4 linked regions of the Homo sapiens genome follow. The protein of the gene in region 1 interacts with the protein of each later gene in a pairwise test. Each region holds a gene or a part of one and is shown on either strand. Other genes may lie near its edges.

What was found.
Region 2: the proteins of TMEM243 (region 1) and CD33 interact in binary tests that used the Homo sapiens proteins (3 or more experiments, as listed by UniProt).
Region 3: the proteins of TMEM243 (region 1) and CPLX4 interact in binary tests that used the Homo sapiens proteins (3 or more experiments, as listed by UniProt).
Region 4: the proteins of TMEM243 (region 1) and PLP1 interact in binary tests that used the Homo sapiens proteins (3 or more experiments, as listed by UniProt).

What each region holds. Positions count from the first base shown.
Region 1 is NC_000007.14:87,209,731-87,216,760, reverse strand, and holds part of TMEM243 (transmembrane protein 243), read left to right. Parts: intron 1-7,030.
Region 2 is NC_000019.10:51,228,050-51,235,079, forward strand, and holds part of CD33 (myeloid cell surface antigen CD33 isoform 1 precursor), read left to right. Parts: intron 1-7,030. UniProt on the Homo sapiens protein: Sialic-acid-binding immunoglobulin-like lectin (Siglec) that plays a role in mediating cell-cell interactions and in maintaining immune cells in a resting state.
Region 3 is NC_000018.10:59,294,889-59,301,666, forward strand, and holds the end of CPLX4 (complexin-4), read right to left. Parts: intron 2,038-6,778; coding exon 1,810-2,037; 3' UTR 514-1,809; downstream 1-513.
Region 4 is NC_000023.11:103,786,840-103,793,149, reverse strand, and holds the end of PLP1 (myelin proteolipid protein), read right to left. Parts: intron 5,353-6,310; coding exon 5,184-5,352; intron 4,714-5,183; coding exon 4,640-4,713; intron 3,818-4,639; coding exon 3,752-3,817; intron 2,624-3,751; coding exon 2,552-2,623; 3' UTR 531-2,551; downstream 1-530.

The sequences.
Region 1 (7,030 bases):
TGGTTTGCCCCAAGTCGTGAGGTGAGTGAGGGATAATGAAATCTATTATAGAACAATGACTATTAATATATAACTAAGTTGGCCTTGAGCAGCACCCTCTTGGGGAATCCCTGAAGGAACTTTTTTTGCCTTTATGGGTGCTGAGTGCACATAGTGATTTCAGTTACTGAAATTTGTTCAATCTTTAGCATGAAAATTGTTCATTCTAAGTTATTCCTATTTAGGAATAGCTTTACAGACATAGTCATGGAGAGAAAGGCAAAGTGAAACAGTTCTCTATTGTTCCATAAATATCTAAGGGATTTTTTTGTCTTTGAGGCAGTGTCTCACTTTGTAACTCATATCGGAGTGCAGTGGCCTGACCACGGTTCACTGCAGTCTCGACCTCCTGGGCTCAAGCAATTCCCCCACTTCAGCCTCCTGAGTAGCTGGGACTATAGGCGCCTTCTACCAAGCCTGGCTAACTTTTTTTTTTTTTTTTTTTTTTGAGACGGAGTCTCACTCTGTTGCCCAGGCTGGAGTGCAGTGGTGCAATCTCGGCTCACTGCAAGCTCCGCCTCCCAGGTTCATGCCATTCTCCTGCCTCAGCTTCCCAAGCAGCTGGGACTACAGGCACCCACCACCACACCTGGCTAATTTTTTTTTGTATTTTTAGTTGAGATGGGGGTTTCACCGTGTTAGCCAGGATGGTCTCGATCTCCTGACCTTGTGATCTGCCCGCCTCGGCCTCCCAAAGTGCTGGGATTACAGGCGTGAGCCACCACGCCTGGCCCTTTTTAATTTGTTGTAGAGATGGGGCTTCCTGTATTGCTCAGGCTGGTCTCAAACTAGTGGCCTCAAGCGATCCTCCCACCTCAGCCTCTCAAAGTTCTGAGATTATAAGCTTGAGCCATCGTGCCTGTCCTAGGGATTATTGACAAGACAAAAAACGAAAGGTGTTCATCTTTTGTAAGAAACATAGACCTCATTCCTTGATACCTATGGAATTTTCATGTTAGGTTGGCTATCTTATGAATCCTAGTTTGAATGCCCAGATGCTTTTTACATCTTTTTTGAACCATTCCCAAGTTTTGTGCTATAGTACTTCTCTTTCAGGTGAAAAATATGGCACAGATACCAAGATGATAAGAAATATCTGAAGTTTCCAAGCCTGTGTTATGGCTTAGCATTTTCTAAAAGAGTGCTGTCCAGTAGAAATATGATGTGAGCAGCCATATATGTAATTTACATTTCTTAGTAGCCATATGAAAAAGTATAAAGAAACAAGTGAAATATTAATAATTTTATTTAACCCCTTATTTCCAAAATATTAATACTATCATTTCAACATATAATCAATATTTAAAAAAAAATTTTAAACTAGGCATGGTGGCTCAGGCCTGTAATCCCAGCACTTTGGGAGGCTGAGGTGGGAGAATCACTTGAGCCCAGGATTTTGAAACCAGCCTGAGCAACAAAATGAGATCCTGTCACACACACACAAAAAATTAGCTGGGCATGGTGGCACCCACCTGTGGTCCCAGCTGCAGGCTCGCACCACTGAACTCCAGCCTGGGTGACAGAACAAGACTCTATCTCAAACAGAAAACAAACTGAGATACTTTTACAATTTTTTTGTATGAAGTCTTTGAAATCCAGTATGTATTTTACATTAACAGCCCATCTGAATTCACGCTAGCCATGTTTCAGATGCTCAGTTACCACGTATGGCTAGTACAGGCGATGTCCCAAATCCAAAATCCGAAATGCTCCAAAATCCAAAACTTCCTGAGCACTGACTTGATGCTACAAGTGGGAATTTCCACACAAAAGTACTTAACACAAACTTCATTTCATGCACAAAAATTTTAAAAATATAAAATTGTCTTCCAGGCTATGTGTGTAAGGTGTATATGAAACAAATTTTGTGCTTAGACTTGTGTCCCACCCCAAGATCTCACTATGTATATGTAAATATTCCAAAGCCCGAAAAAATATCTGAAATCAGAAACGCTTCTGGTCCCAAGCATTTTGGATAAGGGATACCCAACCATTTCAGACAGCTTAGTTTTAAAGCAGCTGAAATGTTATGGTGATTCCATAACCAAGTTTGTGAAACATTTTTCTTTGTTGTGGGACTTTGGAAGCTTTAATATGCCAATTTTCATTGTGACTATAGTTGGTGAGGGTGGATGAGTAGCACTTTATAAACTGTTTAGGTGGTGTGGCCTTTTTAGCCCTAGCACAACGCCTTACTCAATTCTTAACTCCAGCTCCCTAGAGCATTCACTAGATACGTTTCTGCAGAATATACTTTGGGAAACATGGTTCAATGAATCGCCTTCCTCTGCTTTTCCCTCCCATCCTGCCCCCTAGGGTAAACTAAAACCTGAAAATGTCCTCCCCTCTTCTGCCCACAACTACCTTTAAAAGTTTTCTTTAGTACAAGCTTTAGTACACAGTTTGGACAGTCTTTCCCACTGTCTTGTGTTAGAAGAGCACTAAATTATTCTCAGGGCTTGCGAGTCAGTCTTGATCTCAACTTATTAGCTGGCTGTGGTATCATCTGAAGTCAGTTTCAGTCCATCTAGACTGGTGAAACTAGGAGGAGAGGGAGAGAATGGTTTTCTCGAGAAAGCAAAGCAGCATCCCATAGCTAGGGCAAATGGGAAAAGAAGGAACACTCTCCACTTGGTGCCATGTAGTGCAAACGAGTTTCTAAATCAGCCCACTCTGTGGGTGGTCACTGATCACAAAATAAGTGACTCATCCTCTAAGAAGGGTGGTGACAGTTCTTGCTCCTTTATTCCTTCTTGGATGTGATATATAAAGTCAATGATTTGGGGAGAAGGTACATACACTGAATTCCTCAGTAGATACCATAGTGAGAGGGAGGCCCTCTGTGGAGGGGGCAAGTGTAGTGGGCTCTGAGGCTCAGATCTTTGGTTCCAAAGACAAAAGTATCTTCCTTTATCCCCATCCCCCCAATAAAAAAAAAAAGAAGAAAACAAAGACGGTGAAAAGCAAGGGCTTTTTATGATTAGTGTTAGTCAAGCAATTCAAACTTGGAGCATTTGGCCTCTGCAAATAATCATGTAAGATTAGAGTTGCTACTTCATGCCATTTTTGTTGTCGCTTATTTAAGAACAAGGATCAGTAGGGATGGTAATAAAATAATTTTTAAAAATGCAAAGAAGAGAAAAAGAATAAAGCTATGATTAAGATAGCTGGGTCTGTGCCAGCAGCCCCTTCCTCTGTCTTAGAGCTACCAATGCTATTCTCTGAGGAGTGCAGGCTTTAGTTTATTTCCTCTAGATAGAGCTTCTAGGTGATCAAGCACAGCTATTTCTCTCAAAGGAGGGTTAGTCACCCAAAGGTGAAACAGTTCTCTCCTCTCCTCTCATTCAGCCTGCCAAAACAACTTTGCCTTTTTTTGTGTGTGCTAGAAAAGTAATTAAGAAAAATAAATGCCATCACTTTTTCTTTAGTACTCTAAGTTTTCTCTCTTCCACCCCTAGATCAGTGGACTGTAATCTCTGGGTGTGGGGCCTAGGCACTGGTATTTCTGGAAGGTCCTCAGGGGATGCTGGTGCATAGGAAGGGTTGAGATGCACTGGCCTTACTCTTGCTGTGTGTAAGCCCAGTCCAGGCTAATACCTCTCCATGGACCCCTTCTTTTAGCTGCCTCTTTGCTCTTCATAAATGTCGTTCTCCTTTCTGCTGTGTCCTCTCTTCTCTAAATATCTGAATTCTGCTCAGTCTGATTCCCTACTTTAGAACCTTCCCTGTAATCCAGTCTCTTCTCACTTTCCTTCTGTGAGCCTGGCTGTCAAAGATGTGCCCTGGCACTTACTCCTTGTGCTGTGAGGGACTTGTGTAGGTCTTGCCTCCTAACTATAGAATAAGCTCTTCTTTAATGGTAGGTGCCAGTTTCCTCATTTTTGTAGCCTTTTTAGCCCTAGGGACAATGACTTACCAAGTTCTTGATTTCATGTATATTAAGTTTTAAGCAAAGTGAGAATTTAGCGTTATCAAAAAGTAACCTACATTCTTGGGACATTCTGAGCTCACAGTAGAAGGCAGGGACTGTTTAGAAACCTGGATATGCTAGATATCAAAACAGGAAATGGTGCTTCAAGCTCTCATGCAATTAAAATCATTTTTCTCTTTTTCTTTCTGCTAAGTTGTATGTAGCAGAGGCCAGTAGTAAATAAAATATTGTATTAAAAAAAACTTAAACTGAGGTCTGGTCTCTCAGAAGCTGATGGTCTACTGAGTTTTCTCTGGATGTGATTTTTGCTGGTCTTTGGTAATATCCTTTGCTTACTGAATTGAGTCACTTTTTTCTTATAGTTGGCTCATAGGCTATGTATGGGTATAGTGACCATATTTTCTGAGTTGCTGAAGGGACATATGGGTGGATAAACCTCAGTGTCCCTGTGAGAATGGTGGAATGCATTTGAAATTGGAGCTGCCATAGAAATTGGGGCCAGGGTGTGAAGCCAGCTCAGCTCTCTCAGCTCTGAGGAGCCTGATCTCTCATTGGTAAGATTCCCCCTTAGACATGGTATAAATAGTGCAAATACCATATTAGCTGCCATTTACTGACCCTCTACTGAATGTCAGATACTCTCTTGTAGGGGCTTTCTATGTATTCTCTTCTAATCCTTATTACGACTTCACATGGTAGACATTGTACAAATATGAAAACTAAGGCTTAAAAGTTGTAACTTTTAAAATACAGGTCCACATGTAGCAGTGGAGGTCATGTGTTTGGGAGAGAATCGAGTGTAAAAGTTGTAAAGGGTGGGTGTGCCCAAATTCTCATAAATGCTTTCTCTTGCACATCCCGTGCTCTCGGCACTGTTCAAAGTCTGGTGTTGCTTTGGGAAGTCTCAGAGCAGTAGTACCTATGGGTCATAATTCGCGGCGTCCTAGAGTTAGCCAGTGAGACAGAATGTCTCCTTGCTTTCCACCTGTGTGGCTGCTATACCTCCGGTTGTCTCTAGTGACAGTGCAAGGGGAAGCTCCTGTACAGTCAGAGCCATGCTGCTCTGAGGGACCCATATTAAATCCCTGGACACAGGGCCTGAGGTTTCTTTATTCAGCTGGGCTCAAAATAAACCTTCTCCCACATTTTGCATCCTCTCGTTATGCTTTTTCCTGGCCCCTTAGGCTTCTGACTGGGCCACTTACACAGCTTTCATGGTGAGAAGTTGTGATTTGGAAGAAGAGAAGCAAAGTCATTTCTGAGAATCAAACTTTTATTTATGGTATTGGGACCCTTAAGTTTGCTTGAGAAATGCAGAACTTTGGAGGCAAAATTGTAGGATGTGGCTCAAGGGTCTGAATCACTCAGTCCAGGTAAACAATGGTAGGAAGTAGCACCCTTTGGGCATTTAATACCTGCTCAATGTGTTGCCTTGCTCTTTCCCCATCCCAGGAGAAGACAATCACTGTCTTCAGTGGCCTGAGGAACTCGTGGGTAGGGAGGGTAAGGGATGAGTATAAAATGGGATTGAGCCTTTTATAAAAGGAAGAACAAAGTGCCTGGAGGTATTGTTCCTAGACCAAACTGAGGGTCAGGCTGCTATTTCTGGTGGCCCAATAATGAGATGCAGTTGAGGAGCTGAATGTTAATAGGTAAGACAATGGGGAAAATGTCCCCAGGGAATTTCAGAGAGCTTCACAGCAGCCCCCACACTACAGGCCCTGAGGCCTGTCAAGGAAAAATGGTTTTGTGGATCAGGTCCTGGACTCCAGTGCCCTGTGTCACAGCTGCTCCAGCTCCAGCTGTGGCTAAAAGGGGCCAAGATATAGCTTGAGCTGTTGCTTAAGAGGGTCCAAGCCCCAAACCTTGGTGGCTTCCACGTGCTGTTGGGTCTGTGGGTGCACAGAAGGCAAGAGTTTGGGAGCCTCCGCCTAGATTTCAGAGGATGTATGGAAATGCTTGGATGTCCAGAAGTCTGCTGCAAGGGGGAGCCGTTATGGATTGCATTGTATGCCTGGAAAAGCCACAGACACTCAGCGCCAGCCTGTGAAAGCAGCTGTGGGGGCTGTACCCTGCAGAACCACAGGGCCATGTGGAGTTGCTCAAGGCCTTAGGAGCCCACTCCTTGCATTAGTGTGGCCTAGATGTGAAACATAGAGCCAAAGGAGGTTATTTTGGAGCTTTAAGACTTAATGACTGCCCTGCTGGGTTTTAGACTTGCATGGGGCCTGTAGCCCCTTCATTTTGGCTGATTTCTCCCTTTTGGAATGGGTCTGTTTACCCAATGCCTGTAACCCCCATTGTATCTTGGAAGTAACTAACTTGTTTTTGATTTTACAGGCTCATAGGTGGAAGGGACTTGCCTTGTCTCAGATGAGACTTTGGACTTGGACTTTTGAGTTAATGCTGGAATGAGTTAAGACTTCGGGGGGACTGTTGGGAAGGCATGATTGGTTTTGAAATGTGAGAAGGACATGAGGTTTCGGAGGGCCCAGGGGCTGAATGACATGGTTTGGCTGTGTCCTTACCCAAATCTCATGTCAAATTGTAATCTCCACATGTTGAGGGGCAGGGAGGGACGTGATCAGGTCATGGGGGCAGTTTCTAATGGTTTAGCACCATCCCCCAGTGCTGTCTCATGAACGAGTTCTCATGACATCAGATGGTTTAAATGCATGTGGCAGTTCCCCGCTCCCACACGCTTCCCCGCTCCCGCCCTCCCCATCTGTCCCCCCTTCCCCTCCTCTGTCTCTCTGTCACCTCCTCCCCCTCCTCTCTCTCTGTCCCCCCTCCCTCTCCTCTGTCTCTCTCTCTGTCCCCCCTCCCCCTCCTCTGTCTCTCTGTCCCCCTCCTGTTTCTCTCTCACTGTCCTCTCTCTCTGTCTCTCACTCTCTCACTGTCTCTCACGCTCTCACTGTCTCTTGCTCTCTCTCTCTCTCGCTCTCACTGTCTCTCTCTCACTGTCTCTCGCTCTCTCACTGTCTCTCGCTCTGTCTCGCTCTCACTGTCTCGCTCTGTCTCGCTCTCACTGTCTCGCTCTGTGTCTCGCTCTCACTGTGT
Region 2 (7,030 bases), on another chromosome or scaffold:
TCTCTATTATGTATTATTGGTGTATGTATCTGCTTTTATGCCAATATCATGCTGTTTTGGTTACTACAGCTTTGTAGTTTTGAAATCTTTAAATTTTTGAAATTTTGAAATTTTCTAGTTTTGAAATTTTGAAATCTTGTAGTGTGATACCTCCAGCTTTGTTCTTTTTTGCTTGGGATTGCTTTGACCATTCAGGCTATTTTTAGTTCCATATGAATTTTAAGATTGTTTCCTCTAATTCTGTGAAGAATTACATTGATATTTTGATAGAGCCAGGTTTGAATCTGTAGATTTCTTTGGGTAGTATAATCATTTTAGCAATATTAATTCATCTGATGAGTAAGGAATGTCTTTCCATTTGTTTGTATCCTCTTCAGTTTATTTCCTCAGTGTTTTGTAGTTTTTCTTATTAAGGCTTGTCACCTCCTTGGTTAAATTTATTCCTAGGTATACTTCATTCTCTTATAGCTATTGTAAATGTGATTGCCTTCCTGATTTATTTTCAGCTAATTCATTGTGTGTAGAAATGCTACTGATTTTTGTATATTGATTTTGCATCCTGCAAATTTACTAAATTCATTTATCAGTTCTGAGAGTTTTATTGTTAGAGTCTTTAGGTTTTTGTTTTGTTTTGTTTTGTTTTGTTTTGTTTTTGAGATGGAATTTCACCATGTTGGCCAAGCTGGTCTTGATCTCCTGGCCTCAAGCAATCTGCCCACTTTGGCCTCCTAAAGTGCTGGAATTACAGGCATGAGCCACCACGCCTGGCCAAGTCTTTAGGTTTTTGTATGTTATTTGCAGAGACAATTTGACTTCCGCCTTTCCAGTTTGGATGGTTTTTATTTCTTTCTCTTGCCTAATTGCTCTGGCTAGGACTTTCAGTACTATGTAAAATAAGAGTCATAACAGTGGACATCCAGTTCCTAGAGGAAAAGATTTCAGCTTTTCTCCATTCAGTATGATGTTAGCCATGGGTTTGTCATATATGGCCTTTTTTGTGTTGAGGTACTTTCCTTCTATACCTAATTTATTGAGAGTTTCTATCATGAAACAATATTGAATTTTAACACATGCTTTTTATTCTGCAACTATTTAGGTGATCATACGGTTTATGTCCTTCATTCTGTTGACATATGTATAACATTTATTGATTTGCATATGTTGAATCATTCTTGCCTTTCTGGGATTAATCCCACTTTATCATGGTATGTTATCTTTTTGATGTATTGTTGGATTTGATTTGCTACTATTTTGTTGAATATTTTTGCATCTATGTTCATCAGGGATATTGGCCTCTAGTTTTCTTTTTTTATTGTCTCCTTTCTGATTTTGGTGTCATGGTTATGCTGGCCTTGTAGAATGAGTTAGGAAGAGTTGCCTCCACTTCAATTTTTTGGAATAGTTTGAGAAGAGTTGGCATAATTTTTTTTTCTTTAAAGGTTCAGTAAAGTTCAGCACTGAAGCCATCCAGCCCTGGAATTTTCTTTGTTGGGGGGCCTTTTATTATTCATTCAATCTCATTACTTGTTGTTTGTCTGCTGAAGTTTTCTATACCTTCTTGATTCAATCTCGGTAGATTATATGTGTCCAGGAACTTATCCATTTCTTCTAGACTTTCAAATTTGTTGGCATATTGTTCATAGTAGTGTCTAAGATCCTGTGTATTTCTGTGGTAACCATTGTGACATCTTCTTTTTTATTTATGATTTTATTAATTTTTATGTCTTCTGTCTCTTTCTTAGTTTAGCTAATGATTGTCAATTTTATTTATTTTTCCAAAAAGCGAACTTGTTCATTGATTTTTTTTTAATTTCATTTATTTCTGCTCTGATCTTTATGATTTCTTTCATTGTGCTGATTTTGGATTTGGTTTGTTCTTGCTTTCTAGTTTCTTGAAATGCACAGTTAAATGGTTTACTTGAAATTTGTCTAATTGTTTGATGTAGGCATTTATTTCTCTCAAGTTGTCTCTTAAAACTGTTTTTGCTGTGTCCCATAGGTTTTGGTATATTTTATTTCTATTTTTATTTATTTTGAGAAATTTTTAAATATCATTCTTAATTTCTTCCTTCACTATTGGTCATTTAGAATCATTTTGTTTCATTTCTGTGTATTTGTATAGTTTGCATGTTTCCCTTGGTATTGATTTTTAGTTTTATTCAATTGTAGTCAAATAAGATACTTGATACATTTTGGTTTTTAAAAATTTTTGGCACTTGTTTTGTGTTCTAACATATGGTCGATCCTTGGGAATGTTGCACATGCTGATGAAACCATGTGTATTCTGCAGCTGTCGGTTGAAATGTTCTGTAAATATCTTAGGTTCATTTGGTATATGGTGCAGTTTAAATCCAACGTTTATTTGTTAATCTTGTCTAGATGATTTGTTCAATGCTGAGAGTGGGGCGTTGAAGTCCTCAACTATTATTGTATTGGAGTCTATCTCTCCCTTTATATCTAATAATATTTGCTTTACATATCTGGGTGCTCTGGTGTTGTGTGCATATGTATTTACAGTTGTTATATTATAGTGCTGAACTGACCCCTTTATAATAATATAATGTCCTTCTTTGTCTCTTTACAGCTTTTGACTTGTAGTCCGTTTTGTCTGAGATAAGTATAGCTATTCCTGCTTCCTTTCATTTCCACTTGGGTAGAATATCTTTTTCCATCTCTTCCTTTTCAGTCTATGTGTGTCTTCTAGGTGAGATAAGTTTCTTGTAAGCAGTATATAGCTGTGTTGGTAGAAGGGCTGAGGCAGGGCTTGCTTGTCTGACATAATGTAAAAGAGTCTTGGAACATGTCCTGGGTCCAGGGTCTCAAACCCCTCGTGGCCTATGGAACACCAAGCTCTGTGCCTAAGGGTGGAAGGCTGCCCTGCCACACTGCAATCTAAGCCCAGGGCATAAAACCCCTCGTGGCTTGGAAAGAATCCAGGGCTCTGGGCATAAAACCCCTCATAGCCTCTGGAATGTGTCCAGACTTGCTGGCCCCTTGCTCCTTGCTCTCCCAGGATCATAAATTGATTGTATCTTGAGTGAAAAGAACTTGTTCTCCATTATTTCAAGTAGCAGAGCATATGCTAAACCGTCACAGCTATGCTTGATGCACCGCTACCTTTCTACCCCAAAGTCCTCACGTTCTCACTTGTCTATCCCCACTTCTGCACGTCCTCACCACCTGCTTCTTTGTTTGATTACCAATAAATAGTGTGGGCTCCCAGAGCTCGGGGCCTTCACAGCCTCCATACTAGCGTCGGCCCCCTGGACTCACTTTATGTACTATTAACTTGTCTTGTCTCATTCCTTTGACTCCGCTGGACTTCGTGGCCCCCACGGCCTAGTGTTGGATCTGATCACCCCAACAAGCTGAGTCTAGATTTTCTTTTCATTCATTCAGGCAGTCCATATATTTTAAATGGGACAATTTAATCCATTTACATACACATTATTATTAATAGGTTATTTTCATTTCATTGATTGTTTTCTGATTGTTTTATATATTCCTGGTTCCTTACTTCCCCTCTTATTGTTTCTTTTTGTGGTTGGCTGATGTTTTTTTTTTTTTTGTAGTGATAAGATTTGATTCCTTTCTCTTTCTTCTTTGTGTATGGGCTGTCAGTGAGTTTTAAGTTCACGTGTTTTTGCCTTTTCACTTCCAGATGTAAGACTCCCTTGAGCATTTCTTTTCTTTTTCTTCTCTTATTTATTTTTATTATTTTTTTTTTGAGAAAGTGTCTCACTCTGTCGCCCAGGCAGGAGTGCAGTGGCATGATCACGGCTCACTATAGTCTCGACCTCCTGGGCTTAAGCAATCTTCCTGCCTTAACCTCCCAAGTAGCTGGGACTACAGGCATGTGCCACCACGCCCAGCTAATTTTTGTGTTTCTTGTAGAGGTAGGGTGTTGCCATTTGCCTAAGCTGGTCTCAAATTAAAGAGCTCAAGTGGTCCACCTGCCTGCCTTCACCTCCCAATGTGCTGGGATTATAGGCATGAGCCACACTGTGCCTGGCCCCTTGAGCATTTCTTGTAAGGCCAGTCTAAGAGTGATTAGAATTCCCTTAGTTTTTGCTTATCTATGAAATATTTTATTTCTCCTTCTTTTCTGAAAGATAGCTTTTCTGGGTATAGTATTTTTGACTGTTAAGTTTTTTATCTTTCAGTACTTTGAGTATGTCATCCCATTCTATCCTGGCCTATATAATGTTACTGCTGAGAAACTCACTGTTAGTCTAATAAGGATAATCCTATATGTGACTAGATACTTTTACCTTGCTGTTTTTACAATTCTTTACTTGACTTTTGACAATTTGGCATAATGAGCTTTGGAGAGGACTTGCTTGGGTTGAATATTTTGAGAGTACTTTGAGCTTCCTGGACCTGGATGTCCTTCTAGTTCCCAAGGCTTGGGAAGTTTTCACCTATTACTGGATTAAATATGTTTTCTACACCTTTTCCATTCTCTTCTCCTCCTGGAAATACCATAATGTGAATATTTGCTTGATTGTGTCCCATGAGTCCTGTAGGTTTCCTTCGTTCTATTTTATTCTCTTATTTTTACCTGCCTGTGTTATTTCAGAAGATCTGTCTTCAAGTTCAGAAATTATTTTTTCTTCTTGACCTAGCCTGTTGTTGAAGCTCTCGATTGCGGTTTTTTATTTCATTTATTGAGTTCTCAGCTGTAGGAGTTCTGCTTTGTTCTTTTATATAATATCTATCTCTCTGTTAAATTTCTCTTTCAAGTCATGAATTAAAACAATGGGACACAGGTGCCCAACTACTTGGCTGACCTGGGGGCATATCTGCTGGAGGTGCCAACATGGCTGTTTTGCAGGGCTGAGATGAAGCTGAATGACTCTTGGCTGGCCTAGGTGTGTTTTTGCCAGGAGTAGCACTCAGAGCTTTATCTAGGGTTTGGGATGTGAGTGTAAGACTGCTCAGCTGGCCTAGGGGGTGTACCAGCCAGTGGTAGCCCATGGGGCTGTTTCTCAGGCCTGGAATGCAAGCACATTCTGCCTGGGGTCATGTCTAAAAGGGTTGGCTCACAAGGCTGTTTCTCAGGCCCTAATTGTGGGAGAGTGGCCTTTGGGCAGGCCAGAGTCATGTCCACAGAAGGCGTCTGGGCACCGTAAGGCTGTTTCTCAGAGCCTGTGTGTGAGCACATAACCACTACCCCAGCCTGGGGATGTATCAACTCTTTGTTGGCTCAGAGGTCTCTCCCATTCAGGTGAGCATGCACAGTAGTTTGGCCAACTCAATTGTGTGTTCGCCCTGAGTGGGACTATAAGACCTTTCCTCCAGCTGGAAGTACGGGCAGCAGGGGTTGGTTTCTCTGCTGTTCAGGGCCAGAGTCCCAGCCAATCCTGGGCCCAGGCTCCATGCAGCTCTAATTGTGGTATTCAGCCACTACTGCAGGTTTAGTGGAATGAAGATGCACAATGATAAAGAGGTGCATGCCACTGGCCCCCAGAGGAGGGTGCACTCCAGAGATGGCTGTGGTCTCAAGATGGTTCTGTGTTGTAGCAGCTTGCCCGCAGGGGCTGGTTAGGGAGTTGGGAGTGCACACCAAATGCTCCATGCAGCTGTGTGAATTCCTGGCAGCTCTTCCAACTGTGCTCAGAGCTTGTGAGGACTGTAAGATTAACCTGTAGTAAGGAATGTAGGTATCTGCAGTGGCACTGGAGGTTGGTTGGATTCCTCTGCTTATCATTTCCCTACAAGGGGAAATCCTTCCTGTCTCTGGGACAAACCAATCTGGGCTGGGGAGATGGAGCTGCAAAGCCCGGGTGCCTCCATGCTGCCCTCCTGGGTTTCCAATTACCACAGGTAACTCTCCACTCCCTTGCTGCACTACACTACTCTCCCTTCGACACTCCACTCAAATCTTTGCTGTGGTTTATTCATTGCCTTGGTCCTTTCTTGTCTGGTGACACGGGGGAGGATGAGCTCCAGGCACCTCCGGTGAGCCATTTTGCTCCAATGGGGGCATTTTTTTTTAATAGGTTTTATTTTTCAGAGTAGTTTTTGTTTCACAGCAAAATTGAGTGGAATCTTCTAGTCGCTGATCATCTTGGGAGCATTTATAAATGAACCTTATTTTTCATGAAGAAATTGAGCAGAAGATACTAAGACTTCCCGTATGCCCTCTACCCTTACACATAGTTTCCCCGGCCATCAGCATCCCCCATCAGAGTGGTACATTTGTTACAGTCAATAAAACTACATTGACATATCATTGTCACCTGAAGCCCATAGTTTACATTAAAGTTCACTCTTGGTGTTGTACATTTTACAGGCTTTTTAAAAATGTATAATGACATGAATCCACCATGAGAGTATCATATAGAATAGTCACACTTCCCTAAAAATCTCTTTAGGGCATTTTTTTCTACTGTCCATACCTCAACCCTTAGCCCTGGCCTCTGTCCAAAGACCAGTGCTCTCTCCACTGCCCTATTCCAATTAATAATGGCATCTGGCACCTCAGTGGACAGTGAGCCCAGTGAGAGCAGGAACAGTTCCCTCAGTAGTGGTTATCAAACTGTTAACAATGATGCTCAGAGACACGCCCCTGACTCTGAGTGTTGGGACCTAGAAGGCACAGCCAGGCAGGTCCAGGAGAACTGTCTGGGTCTAAGAAGGTCTGAGAACCACCTCCCTGCCCCACCCTGCTTCCAGGCCCTTTTTAAGGCCAAAAGGACCACCTTTGACCCTAAGTGATGGGGCCAGTGGGAAGAAAGAAGAGACAAGGCCTATCAGCATTCCAGTGCTTTCTCTCTCTCTCATCCAAGAGGCTCAGAGCTTCACAGTCCTTCAGGGGCTATGTCTGAGGTTCATTTCAGAAAGACCCAGGGTGGAGAGGAACCTGAGTCCTAGGAGAGATGATGTTTTGTGCACCAGAGAGAGAGGGTGGGACAAGAGGTGTCAGGTGCACTGTGTACTTCATCTCATGGTCGTGGTCAATATTGATGTCTATGATGGGTGGGAAGATCTAGGAGCTAAACCCCATTTTGGAGGTGAAGTCACCCCT
Region 3 (6,778 bases), on another chromosome or scaffold:
GCAGCTGTGCAGCTTCATTGAGACAACGACCAAATTGCATTGGAGTAATGTTGGCAGTCAAGAGGAAGTGCCAATTTAGTGATTTCCTTAGCAGAACTGGCTGCATCTTTTACAAGAAAGCACATCTTCTTTGTCATCCTGAGGCTAGAGTGTGGAACAATTTGGCAGCTGTAGTATTTTATGTCATACAAAGTGTACAGATATCAGGCCACATACAGCACCTCTCACCCATCCATACTACCCACCTCACCAACTACAGGGCAGAGTCAGGCATTAAACTGAAAATAAATGTTATCTATTATATTGTAGTTTTTAAAAAAGTGAGTTTTTTAAAGTTTCTGCTATAAAACAAATCACAACTCACATGCCATTTCTGATAAAAGACAAGCACAGTTTTAAAATGTGCCCATGGCATCTGGGTTTGTGGACTAGAAGGCTAATCAGCCTCAATCATTGCACCAATGTTCTCCCAGGAATTTCCAAGACAGATTAAACTTTGCCAAGGACCATAGGTTTTGGACCTCTATTCATTTGTTTTATTTGCTTAATTTTATTACATGAAACTTTTTGTACAACACATTTGAGAACCCTGGGTTTAGAACAACTTAGACCCTAAGTTTTCGGTCTCAGTTTCCTTTTCCTTTGATAGATCTTTATTCACTGTATGAACAGAGTCACCAAAAAAAAAAAAAAAAATCAGTATTTTGTTTTGGTTTGGTGGGCTTTAGCTAAATAGCTCGAAGTGTTTCAGTGGTAATTGTCCTAAGTCTTTTGAATTATTCCTTTTGAAAGAGAGCAGATATTAGGGGGGAAAAATCAGTGTCTACCCTGAAAGCTTGTGGCACCAAATGACAGTGTGATTTACTGGAAGGTAGTCTAAAGGGGTGGGATGGGAAGGGACAGGAGAAGAAAAAAAAAAGAGAGATAGGGAGAGAAGGGGATGAAAGAGAGAGAGAGGTTGGGAGGAGACAGAGAGAGATTGATTTAACTTCTTAATGCTCTCTGTTAGTCTACCCACTTTGTTCCCATTGCTATCACCAAGTTCAGACAAGGAGAGTTAAGCTCAACTCAAAAAGAGCAGCCGTCTGCCTGGTTTCCCTCTGCCTCTAATTGTGCCTCCCTTGGTTCCATTCTTCACATGGCCACTAGAACGATGATCTCCATTGCAAAGGGCTAGTGAGGTCTATTCCCTGCCTCAATTCGTCATTGTTCACCACATCTGTGCTACCGCCACTTGGCTGAGAAGCATCCAAGGACCAAAGGATCCAAGCATACTTGATGAGTATCATTGACAAATTCAAGGATCCTAGAGGTGAGGGGTGGGGGTGGTGACCTTTGATTGCCCTGGAGTCTGTAGACTCAGCTCCCTGTGGGAAACCCGGCTCCCAGTAGACACCTTGACTCTCCACATTTCTCTCTGAAGGGACCTGGTGTCCTGCGAATAGTTGGACAGGGTGAGAACTTGGCCTCCAAGGAAGAAAGTTGGAGAGGAAATGCCCCTTGCTTTTGTTTCTTCCTGGCTCATCTCAAGGTCTTTAAGCAGATATGTGTTCTGCATCATCATTTACAACTGAAATTTTCCAGTTTATCTCATTTATAACTAAAAGGAAAGTAAGGTTCCCGCTGCAAGGTGTTAGCTAAATGCTCTGCCAGGAATATTTAGAACAACCAAATTATTGTCTGTCAATGGATCATCGTGGTTTTCCTAACTGTGTTCACTACATTAAAACATGTACTGCTTGAAACGTCCCACAAGAGAGTGGTCTTTTCCAAGGATGGCTGGTTCCCTCCCTCCACCCCTCCCACCCCTCACATCACGGAACACTTCTGCTCCGCTGTCTGCTTGATTTCAGTGAAGGTGGCCTGGGCTTTTTCTTTTATGGTATCCAAGTCCATGTTCTGGAGATTCTGTATCTGCCCAAGAATAGAATCTTTATCTTCTTCCTCTTCTTGATCTTCATCTACCATTTTCCGGAGATCTTCAGGTAAATCCACATCATCTCCAGCCATCTGGATTTGATTCTCATCCATTTCACTCTATGTGAAAAATAAATAGAGATAGATAAATAACTCTAAACTACTAACTCACTAACTAAATAAATTTTAAAAGCAGCAGGAAAAGGTCTTTAGAGAATACAGGAAGTGAGTGGCACTCTTGGCCTTGCAGCAGAGCCTGGTCCTGATGGCAGTTGTGGGGGCTTCTGTAGGGGGGTCCTTTCTTCATGGCACCTTGCGTCGATCAGAACCTTCCAGCATGGTGGTTCTCCAAGTGTGGTCTCTGGACAAGCAGCATTAGCATCATCTAGAGCCTGCTGGAACTACAAATTCTTGGGCCCCATCCCAGACCCACTGAATCAGGAACTCTGGAGATGGAGCCCAGCCATCTGGAATTTTTTTTTTTTTTTTGAGAGGGAGTCTTGCTCTGTTGCCCAGGCTGAAGTGCAGTATCTCGATCTCAGCTCACTGCAACCTCTGCCTCCTTGGTTCAAGCAATTCTCCTGCCTCAGTAAATCTCAGTAGCTGGGATTACAGGTGTGCACCACCACACTCAGCTGATTTTTTTGTATTTTTAGTAGAGACGGGGTTTCACCATGTTGGCCAGGCTGGTCTCGAACTCCTGACCTCAGGCGATCCAACCACCCCGGCCTCCCAAAGTGCTGAAATTACAGGTGTGAGCCACCACTCCCAACCCCATCTGGATTTTTAAGAATGTCTTTCTCTCTGTGATGCTGATACACACAAAAGCTGGGGCATCACACCCCAACTCTGCCTAAGGGCAGCTTTGCAAGTCTTGCAGATTCTATCAGCCCCATGCCAAGACCCACTCACCTGGTTGACCCCACTGTAGAGGATGAGGTCTCAGTTTATAGTAACTAGACAGTATGCATTAATTCACTCATCACACCTTAGTGGCAACTTTTTCTTAATCATGGCTCTTTTCCTCCCTTCCACTAGACAGGGAGCCCGTCATGGGCTCTTGTCAGATTCAACTTTCCACCGTTAGCACCTGGACTGGAGTCTAGCACACAGTACACATGTATTAAGTGAACCATCAAGGGCATGGCCGCCACTCAGCATACTGGCAGTCTAGCCTTCGGTGTTGCTGACGCTGTCACAAGCGCCTTGCACATTTCATTTTGTGATTTTAGGAGTGTCTGTTCTAGAATTTCTTAATGCATGCTGCCTGGTCTTTGAGATTCCTTTATTTTTTTTTTTTTTTAGACAGGGTCTCTCTCTTTCACCGAGGCTGGAGTGCAGTGGTGCAATCTGGGCTCATTGCAGCCTTGGCCTCCTGGGCTCAAGCAATCCTTCCACCTCAGCCTTCCAAGTAGCTGGGACTACAGGTATGCACCCCCATACTCAGCTGAGATTCTTTTACCACTTAGGCTATAGAGTCTCTTGTTCTGTAATGAGAGAGGAGTCTAAAGAAAAATATTCTCTGGGAAAGGTTAACAGTAGCTTACATCCCCAGATGGCTGCTGTCAGATTTTTTGGAGATCAGGTTGTAACATGAGGTGACCTGGGTTTCAGGGAAACAGAAGATTAAAAAGAGTGTCAGAAAAGCTAATGAGAGGAAAGATCTATGTTAGAGCCACCTGAATATGTTGTGACCAGCCTTAAATTTGTTACCAAAGCTCATGAAAAATCATATTAAAAAATGACGATCTTAGTCAAACAGACTACATTGCTTTAAGAAAGATTTCTGCACCTGGTGACTTCTGAGGTGGAGTTAAAGACAGCACCTAAAGAGAGATCTGAATTCTCCCTGTCTGGGTGCTATGTAGGAATGATCAGAAAGAAACATCAGTTGTCTCTAGGTCCAAACAGCACACCAGGTAACCTGGAAACTTCATTCTTCATCTGGAAAGTGGGTTGGAAGGACGAGATGGCTGAAGTCTTTTCCAGTTCTAACACTCTGTGGCTCCCATCCTTGGAGGGGCTGAAGCCCAGCTGCCTTTCCTCAGGGCTCTCTTCTTTGATTCGGTTCCCTGGGCAGAGTGACACAGGAGTCTGGCTCAAGAAATAGCTTGAGAAGCAGATTTCTGATGCAGCAGGAACCACTGATTTTGGGAAGGACAGTCTTCACCCAGGCCCTCCTTGGAGAGCCTGGAGGACAGTCCCACTCCGCGCCAGCCTCCGGAGATAAGTGAAGCCTCTCCCTGCTCTTGGCCAGGGCCTTGGGCCCTCCAAGTGCTTAACGGATTAATTAGTTCCTGGTCAAACTGTTGTGGGATTAATTAGTTAGTTAATCCTTAGGGGCTCCCAGCCAATTGTGCATTTCTATTTATTTTTTATTTGCCTTCCCTAGCGGCTGCTTTCCTTGCTGATCGTCTTCTGGGACTTTTTGCAGGAAGGAGAGGAAAAGCACAAGGTGGACGACTCATTCTCAGTTCATGCCAATGTGGGACATCTGCCCTCTCTTATGCATCCTGAAATCAAATGCAAGTAATCTGAAAAGACATTCCCGGGAATTCTGGCCCCTTCCCTCAGGTTGGTAGTAAGATCCCCAAGCATGTCACCAGGTTTGAACCTGGACAGGGTAACTGCTGTGGGCTTGCAGGGATGGGCAGCTAGAGGGGCTAGAGGAAAGCGTGTCAGCCAGCCAGGAGTATAAAACACCGAACACACTCATGAGGGCTCACGGGATGGTGCTCGCCTGCCTCCCATTCACAGGGAGACTTCAGCGAGGCCACCATCTATGGCTCTGCAGCGCTTGAAGAAGCTTTGGGATGGTTTCCTCCTTCAAGGGTGACTCTGAGGTTCGTTTTATCCTTGTGCTTCTTGCTCAGGGAAGGGAGAGCAGTGCAATTCTACGTTGCCTTATGGAGAGGATCTTGATTGCCCTAACTTTTATCAAAGTGGTTCTCAAAGTAGTTCTCAAAGTGGGTTCTCCAGGACAACAGCATCAACATCTTTTGGGACTTTGCTAGAGATGCACGTGCTGGGACCCTACTCAGACCCACTGAATCAGAAACTCAGGGCTCGGGCCTCGCAATCTGTGATTTAACAAGTCTTCCAGGTGATTCTGGGGCTTGCTGAAGTTTGAGAACCCCTGCTCTACATTTCTTGAAGACAAGGGCTGTAACTTACTCATCTTTCTGTCTCATAACCCAGCAAGGTTTCTGGCATGTAGACACAGACAATTATATGTTTACTGAATAGCCGGGCATGGTGGCTCAAGCCAGTAACCCCAGCTCTTTGGGAAGCTGAGGCGGGGGGATCACCTGAGGTCAGGGGTTCAAGACCAGCATGGCCAATTTGGTGAAACCCCGTCTCTACTAAAAATGCAAAAAATTAGCAGGGAGTGGTGGCACACACCTGTAATCCCAGCTACTAGGGAGGCTGAGGCAGGAGAATCACTTGAACCTGGGAGGCAGAGGTTGCCATAAGCCAAGATCACGCCACTGAACTCCAGCCCGGGCAAAAGAGAGAGACTCTGTCTTAACAAATAAATAAATATTTTTAAAAATTAAAATAAATGTTTACTGAATGATTCAATGAACCTATTGTCAGAGAGGATAACAGCCTTAGTAATACTCAAATTTGTAGGTCCTCTTTGCTGTAAAGAGCTCTGTTTTCGTAGCTATCGGTTTATCTTTATAATTCCATTGGGGCATCGCAGCCTAAATTGCCTGAGTGAGCACATTAGTTCTACCACTTATAGGATGGGTGACCTGGGGCACTTCGTATAGATGGCCTCTTTGAGCTTTATTTCCTTGTCTGTATATGGAGAATTGCATTATTTGCCTTAGAGCTGTGGAAGGTTAATTAGATGGTAACTGAATTATTTAGAATCTGTTAAGCACTCACCCAGTAGTAGCTATTCATAAAAATAATAACCTTCAGAGGTGGGCAGGGGAATTTGCTGTGGGCAGTCTTGCACATGGGGTTAGCTCTGTCAGGAGGCTGTGATGTCCTGGCACCTTACCTCTGACCTAGCAATGACTCCTACCTTCACCCAAAGGCTTGGTTTTTCTAACAAGCCAGGCTTAGTCATTTCCTCTTTAGCACTAGGCTCTCTATTCTAGGAGAAAGCTACCTAGCCAGCCCTAGCTCCCCTTACCTCTTGTCAGGCCCGCCCCTGACTTTTGTGGGTGGCAGAACATAAGTGCTGATAGAAGTTCCTGGCTCACAACCTGGCCCTCTTTTTTTTCCAGTTCCTGGTGCCAGCCCTCACTGGGAAGGGCCTTAGGACCTTGGGTGCATGGCCCCTACCCCACTCCTCAGGCCTAGTCTGCCTGGCCACTCTCAGGAGCACAGATCTGCATCGGAGGCCTGAGAATGCTCTGGAATGCACTTAGGCAGGGCGTTTGGGGTCCTAAGCAGCTTGAGCATAGTCTACAAGAGGGGTGTGGGCTCTGCCTGGGCTAGGCCCTTTGGCCCACAGACTCTTCACCCCGTGTGAAAGAGTGTGGCTAGAAGAGAGACCAAGAGAGCCCTCTAAAACATGGGCCCCAGGGCAGTGGCCTCAGATGTCCAGGTCCAAAGGCAGCAATGGGTGTACTCGATGGCTGTGGTCAGAGAGTCCTGCACTCACCATTGATCTAGAAGTACAAGGCTACTGGCCCTCCACCAGAGCATGGCTGCTTCTGGAGATGATTCTAGTCTTGAAGCCAATTACTCTGGGCTGCAGCCTGTGCCATGGACATCTTATGACTAAAGGTAGGACAACCAGACAAGGCCGTTGAGTGGCTAGAGGAGAAAATGATGCCCTCTGGAACCAAATGTGGGCCTGTAGCCTCATTAGCTCTGGATCCTAACTAATTGAGCTAGCCCT
Region 4 (6,310 bases), on another chromosome or scaffold:
TACGTTGCCCTTTCCATACCTGCTCTGTCCTTTAAGTACTAAACCTTCCATCCAGTACTATCCAAATAAAACTAAATATTAGTCACGTATGAATTACTAAGGGATCATTACTGGAATATCCAAACAATTTAAAGAGAAGGTAACAATAACTTAAATCTAAATGCACCGGGGACTGGGGCACCACTAAGGTATTGAAAAAGTAACCATAGTTGACTCTGAACATTCTGAAACCCAACTTCGAAGAGAAAAGAAACCTTTAAGTAGGCAATAAATTGGTTTCAATATCTGCGTTTTAACACAAGCTCAGACATGTACTTACTGGATTTCTTTGGGCAAATTACTTTGCTTCTATTTCTTAGTGTCTTCAACTATAAAAGTAGAAGTAATCTATTCATATACTATTTATTTCAGAGAAATGTTATGAGAATGACTTGGATGAGCTGAAAAATGAATGATCTCCTTGAACAAGGTACGATTATTAAGTTTCTATTGTGAAGTCAAATAGAACAATTCACTCAAAGGACACGATGTTTGATTGAGAACATTCTTAATTTTATTTTCTTTAATTTTATAAAATACACTTTGTAAGATAAGTTTCTAAAAGTTTATCCTTTATGTGTGTTAAAATTGCAATTCTATATCAGAAATGAAGGAAACACTTTCAGTTGATTAACTCTCTTTGTGTGTGTATATATGTGTATGTATGCATGTGAGGTTTTCAGGGAAGGGTTGGTTATTTGTTATGTTATTAAATCAAAACAAAACACAAGGTACGGATTACTTCACTGTCCTTTATCTTGATTGGTTTCTTACAAAACATTTTCCCTCTCCTCCTTCTATGCAGCCTGGAAGCTTATCTTGTATACTGGTTTGAAAACAAGTATCAAGTGTCTTTTTGTAAAGCTCTTACATCTCCTTAAATATTGCTGAAACCACTTTGGGGGAAAAGAACAACACAACTCTTTACAACAAAAGAACTGTAGTACAAATCTTTCCTTCAATTAAAACCAATCAGACTTTTTTTTTTTTTAACCCAAAGTTAACAAAAACAGGAAAAGACTGAAATCTGGGAGCTATTCAGGTCTCAAACTCTTTCTGCCTGTCCTTTTTCCTGGAAGCTTACCAACTGAATAGCTGATGACTGGTGCATTCTGTTATGTGATCTATATCAGGAGAAAATAACCTTTATGTTAAACCTAACTCTTAACACACCAAGATAACATTGCTAAGTAAAATCATTTTCCATTAGCTAGAAAGAACGATCAGATTACTCAAATTGAGATTCAAATTCACCAAATCTGTTTCTGCAAAGGCAGAATACTTGTAGAAAATCCCAATAGATTCAACTAGCCAATTTTTAATATCATTTGTGATGCTTAATGTCCAATTTTCCTAGTTTAAAAAACAGTCATAATCAAAGAATTATTCTCCAGACATTTCTGATGCAACCCCAAATAAGTAATAAACAAACTGGAATACATGAAATGTGCATCATTCTAAAACAAATCAAGACCTTCAAATCACCTACGATGACTGAATGGATAATACCCCATGAAATGAGCACCATTGTGAAGATATGACAGAGGCCAGAGTACACAACTAATTAACAGAAAAAAAGACATGCTATCCAAAGAGTTATCTATCCTGTGTCTACCAGAGGGCCATCTCAGGTTACACCATTAGCCACCAGCAACTGCTGCTCCTCAGGCCAGTCTGTTCTCATGTAAGCTAGTTTCCTTCTATTCTCAGCTCCTTGGAAACCACAGGGTTGTCATGGTAGCTGTTATCAAGGAGAAGGGAGTGAGAAGATGCTGACAACACCCTGTTTCTCTTCCCTAACGAGGTGTAAGGCCAGATGCCCCCTTCGTCTACACAGATTCTACGCTCCCTTATGCTGTAAGTAAGGTTGGCTGAGTTAGGGCTTCAGTAGTCCATCGCCATCGGGGTCAGTGCTCTCTTTCTGTGGGTGAAAGATCCTTGCTTTGACCCCCTTCTCCCAGCTGCAATAGGCAGATTTGGGCAAACGCTCTTATTGTTTTTCTGACATTCTTTTTTCTTCTATCTTCAGTGGTAATAGAGAGACCAGAATGAATTCCATTTTGTACACCAAAGAGAATATATTTGGCCCCTATAGATGGCAAGAGGACCAAAGACATTCCTTCTCTGTACCTGAGCATCTTTCCTTCCACTTTGTTTCCATCAGTGGAAGTACCCTTTGAGAAGAAATTACTTTCTGATCCTCAGGAGATGCTTGAAAATTCAATTAGAGCCTCCATTCCTTTGTGACTTGCAGTTGGGAAGTCATCTTCTTAGGCATTTCCCATTTCTAGCAGGAACCAGCTATGAAGCAAAATGACTAAAAGAGGTACATAAGAGGGGAGAGTCCAAAGAGAGACCTTAATCACTGCAAGACTCTCCTTTCTTGTTACACTCATCAAGTAAGAAGAGGGCCAGTTGGTGGCAAAGGCAAAGAGTTAAGATGGGAGACGCAGCATTGTAGGCTGTGTGGTTAGAGCCTCGCTATTAGAGAAAGGGGGATTTCTACGGGGGATCAGAACTTGGTGCCTCGGCCCATGAGTTTAAGGACGGCAAAGTTGTAAGTGGCAGCAATCATGAAGGTGAGCTGTAGGGAACAGAAGAGAGAATGTGAATGAGAGTAGAAAAGAAAGCACTCCCTCCTCAAATCCCTTTGGGAATGAGGAAGGGTAGAAATAAAATCATAACTAAATAAGGGAAAAACCCATGCTCTGCAAAAAGCAGTACATCCCAGGCTTGGCTTTCTCCATATACACTTGACTGGAAGTCCGATGTCTCTGAGGCATCATGGGTCTCATGGCCCAGGCCCAGAGAATCAAATCATAAAGATTTATTCCACACCTCTGTTTGATCTAGCACTGAGTTTTCCTCAGGGAAGTGAACAATATTTGGGCTTTGCCACATCAATATGTCCGAGTGACTTAGAGTCATAGGGTGCTTGCTGTAGACACACAGCCACATCATGCAGTAGAGCTCTCCCCTGGTTAATGAATCAATTCGTTTTACAAGGTGAGAAATTACTTGACTCTGTATGGAAACCTCAGCAGTAGGGGCCAGGAGTTCTGTGAGCTCATCTTGTCTGATCACTGCTTATAAAATAACTTCAGATAAATCACTTCACCCTTCAGTGCCTTAGGTTTTTAATCTGCACAATGAGCACACTACATTCACAGGGCACTGTAGCACTATCAGCAAGACCTGGGACATAGCATTGTATTATAATCATAACAATTCTAATAATGTTAGGAGGTCCTCCCAGTATTTCCATATGAGTAACTAAATCCACTGGAGAGTATCCAAAGTGGATTCATATTGATAGTATATAGAATTCCAGGCTATAGCAAGTCATGTTTCGTGATGTTTCAGTGTTTTGTCACTGATCTGATCAAAATGTATTGAGAATTAACCGTAATTTATGACTGCAAAGTACTTGGCAACATTACATGTTCTATAAATACTAAATATTATCATTCGTGTCTATGAATCTCTTACCTCTTTCCTCATACCACTTTTCTTGTTCCCATCTAATTTGTGATGTCTTTCTGCCTTGCCAATGCAAGTAGAAGTACGGAGCCTCCACCCTTTGCTATCTTCCCAGAAGCTTCCCTCCAGCATTTCAAGGATGGAAGCAGTCTACCTTCTTGCCTTTCAGAATAGCTGTACCCACACTATCTCAGGCCTATTTACTTGCCAAGATCATTCAAAGTCAACTCACCAGGGAAACCAGTGTAGCTGCAGCCCCCACAAATGCAGCAATAAACAGGTGGAAGGTCATTTGGAACTGCAGGAAAATGAAAGAGGAAGAACTGTTTCTTGCAACAGCAGTAATATGCTCCACTGTAAATCATGAATACAGCTTTCTGAATGTGTTGATATCTTTCTTGTGTGCTAATTCCACATCTCTAACTAAGTTTTCACTTCCCTAAATGTGGGCCTCCCAGTCTTCAGTGTACACCATAGCACCTGGCCCATTAACACCCAGATCACAGAATAGTCATGAAATAGTACAGTACTCCAAAATAATTAACTGGTTCCCTACAGTTGTGCCCAGGGGCCCAAAATTTAAAGTCAACATTTTGCTGTCAAAGAAATAATTTACTGCCTGTCTCCCCCGGATTTACTTTTATTCCCCTGCCTCATTTGTATATAATATCTGTTCTCAATACAGTGCTTTCCCTTTCAAATGTACTTATTTTACCTCTCATTTGAGATAAAGAAGTTCCAAATTGAAAATGTTTTCATAAAACCTATGAATGCCTCTGTGCACAGCCCATTTTCTTGATATGGTTTTTAACTAAAGGAATGAAAATTTTCATGTGGGGGATTTTGCCATTAGGCTCTATCTTTACCTAAAGCTACAAACTTCTCTTTTAAGAGGGGAAGGGTTGGAAAGGAAGTCTTTCTATGCAACTCTAGAGAAAACAGGTGTTTTACCTTCTATGCTCATTGGCTCAGGCACACTTAGCCAACATGTTGTAGAAGGCAATCGGCTAATTCAAAATCCAGCAAAGGGAAACTTTCAGTCCTTAAAATTGAAGGCCATGGGTGTAATTTGTATGGTATTAGCTACTCCCTTGTAAAATAACCCAAATAACCCACTCACCTCAGCTGTTTTGCAGATGGACAGAAGGTTGGAGCCACAAACCTTGCCAGGGAAAGCATTCCATGGGAGAACACCTAAGTAAGACACAAAAAGCAAGCAGGGTAAGCTTTATGGAGTTACGGGGCCACATGGAGACTTTCCCCCAGAGCCCTTCTTCCATCTCTAATTATCCTGGCTGTAAAGTTGGATTCTACCAACAATCAGGATCCTCTTTTCTACAGGTTTACAAAAAAGAGAAGGTGGTATTGAACAGTGGTGAAACCTTGTGTTTGTTATTGAAATGTGCTGCTTTGGGGTTGTGAACAGCAGTCAACTAGAGTAGGCCAATGTGAATGGCCAAGAAAACTCCCACCACTTCCAAGTTCCCTTCCCGGGGAAGAAACCTCTCTGGTTTCAGTAGGGAAGGATTAATAAACTAAGACCCAATCATTCATCATCTTATATTTTTCTCATAATCACCACCCTCCTTACACTAAGAAAATAACCAAATATATAGTGCTTCCATAGTGGGTAGGAGAGCCAAAGCACCCGTACCCTAACTCACCATACATTCTGGCATCAGCACAGAGACTGCCTATACTGGCAGAGGTCTTGCTGGGGAAGGCAATAGACTGGCAGGTGGTCCAGGTGTTGAAGTAAATGTACACAGGCACAGCAGAGCAGGCAAACACCAGGAGCCACACAACGGTCAGGGCATAGGTGATGCCCACAAACTAAAATGATTGACATGGGGTGGTTAGAAATCAGCATCAGCCTGCAGATGTAGAAACACAAACTGGGAGATCCTGGAGTGGCGTGTGCCAGACATTAAAACCAGGTTCCAGGGCTCTCCTTCAAATGAAATTAGTGAGCAGGGCACCTCTGCCAAGGGTAATTGGCAGTATCTACTAGATAACTGGCCCCAGTATAACGGAGGGTGGGGGGAATGGGTAGGGGAAGAGTGAGGAGGATCCCTGGGTTAGAGAGGCTTCAGAGGATGTTTTTGGGCAGATAAGGTGTAAAGAAATCAAAACAGATCTTGAAAGAAAGTCGTGCCATTTTGTGCCTTAGGCTGAGCTTAGAACATGTTCCTTGCCATAGGAACATTTTTGTTCCCTAGCCATTGAACAAAGCCAATAGGAGATTAAAATTTCAGATACAAAACCTTTCTAAGCTAACTGCTGGCCACAAAAAGACATTGCTGGAACCCACACATGTTCAGCCGCCAAAGGATCTTTAACTCCAGAGACTGAAAACAAATGTGCACCTCACTCAAAGCATGGATAACCCTCAGGCAATAAAACATTCAACATGCAGATCTACTCCAATTCCCTCTGGGACCTCGAACTGTGCAGGATCCCAGAACATTGTAAATTTCACCTTGGAGTTAATTATTTAATTTTTATTATCCATCCTCCCTCTCAGATCAGGTGCCCAAGTCTCAATCACATGAGCAGCATTTTAGACTCTTGTCCAGTTAGATCCACTCTTGTGGTACCTACTAGGAAGGGAACAAAGGGATACCAACAGATGGCTTAGAAATGGTCTGATTGTACAAAGCATCCCACAAAACTCATGCTTTCTGTTTTGAGAAGAAATTTGCTTAGGGAACCTTTGAAAGGTGAGGCTAAGCCAGCTGGGCACCACGTTCTTCCTGACCTTCTCGTTCGGCTGCAGCCATCGCTTCCTCAC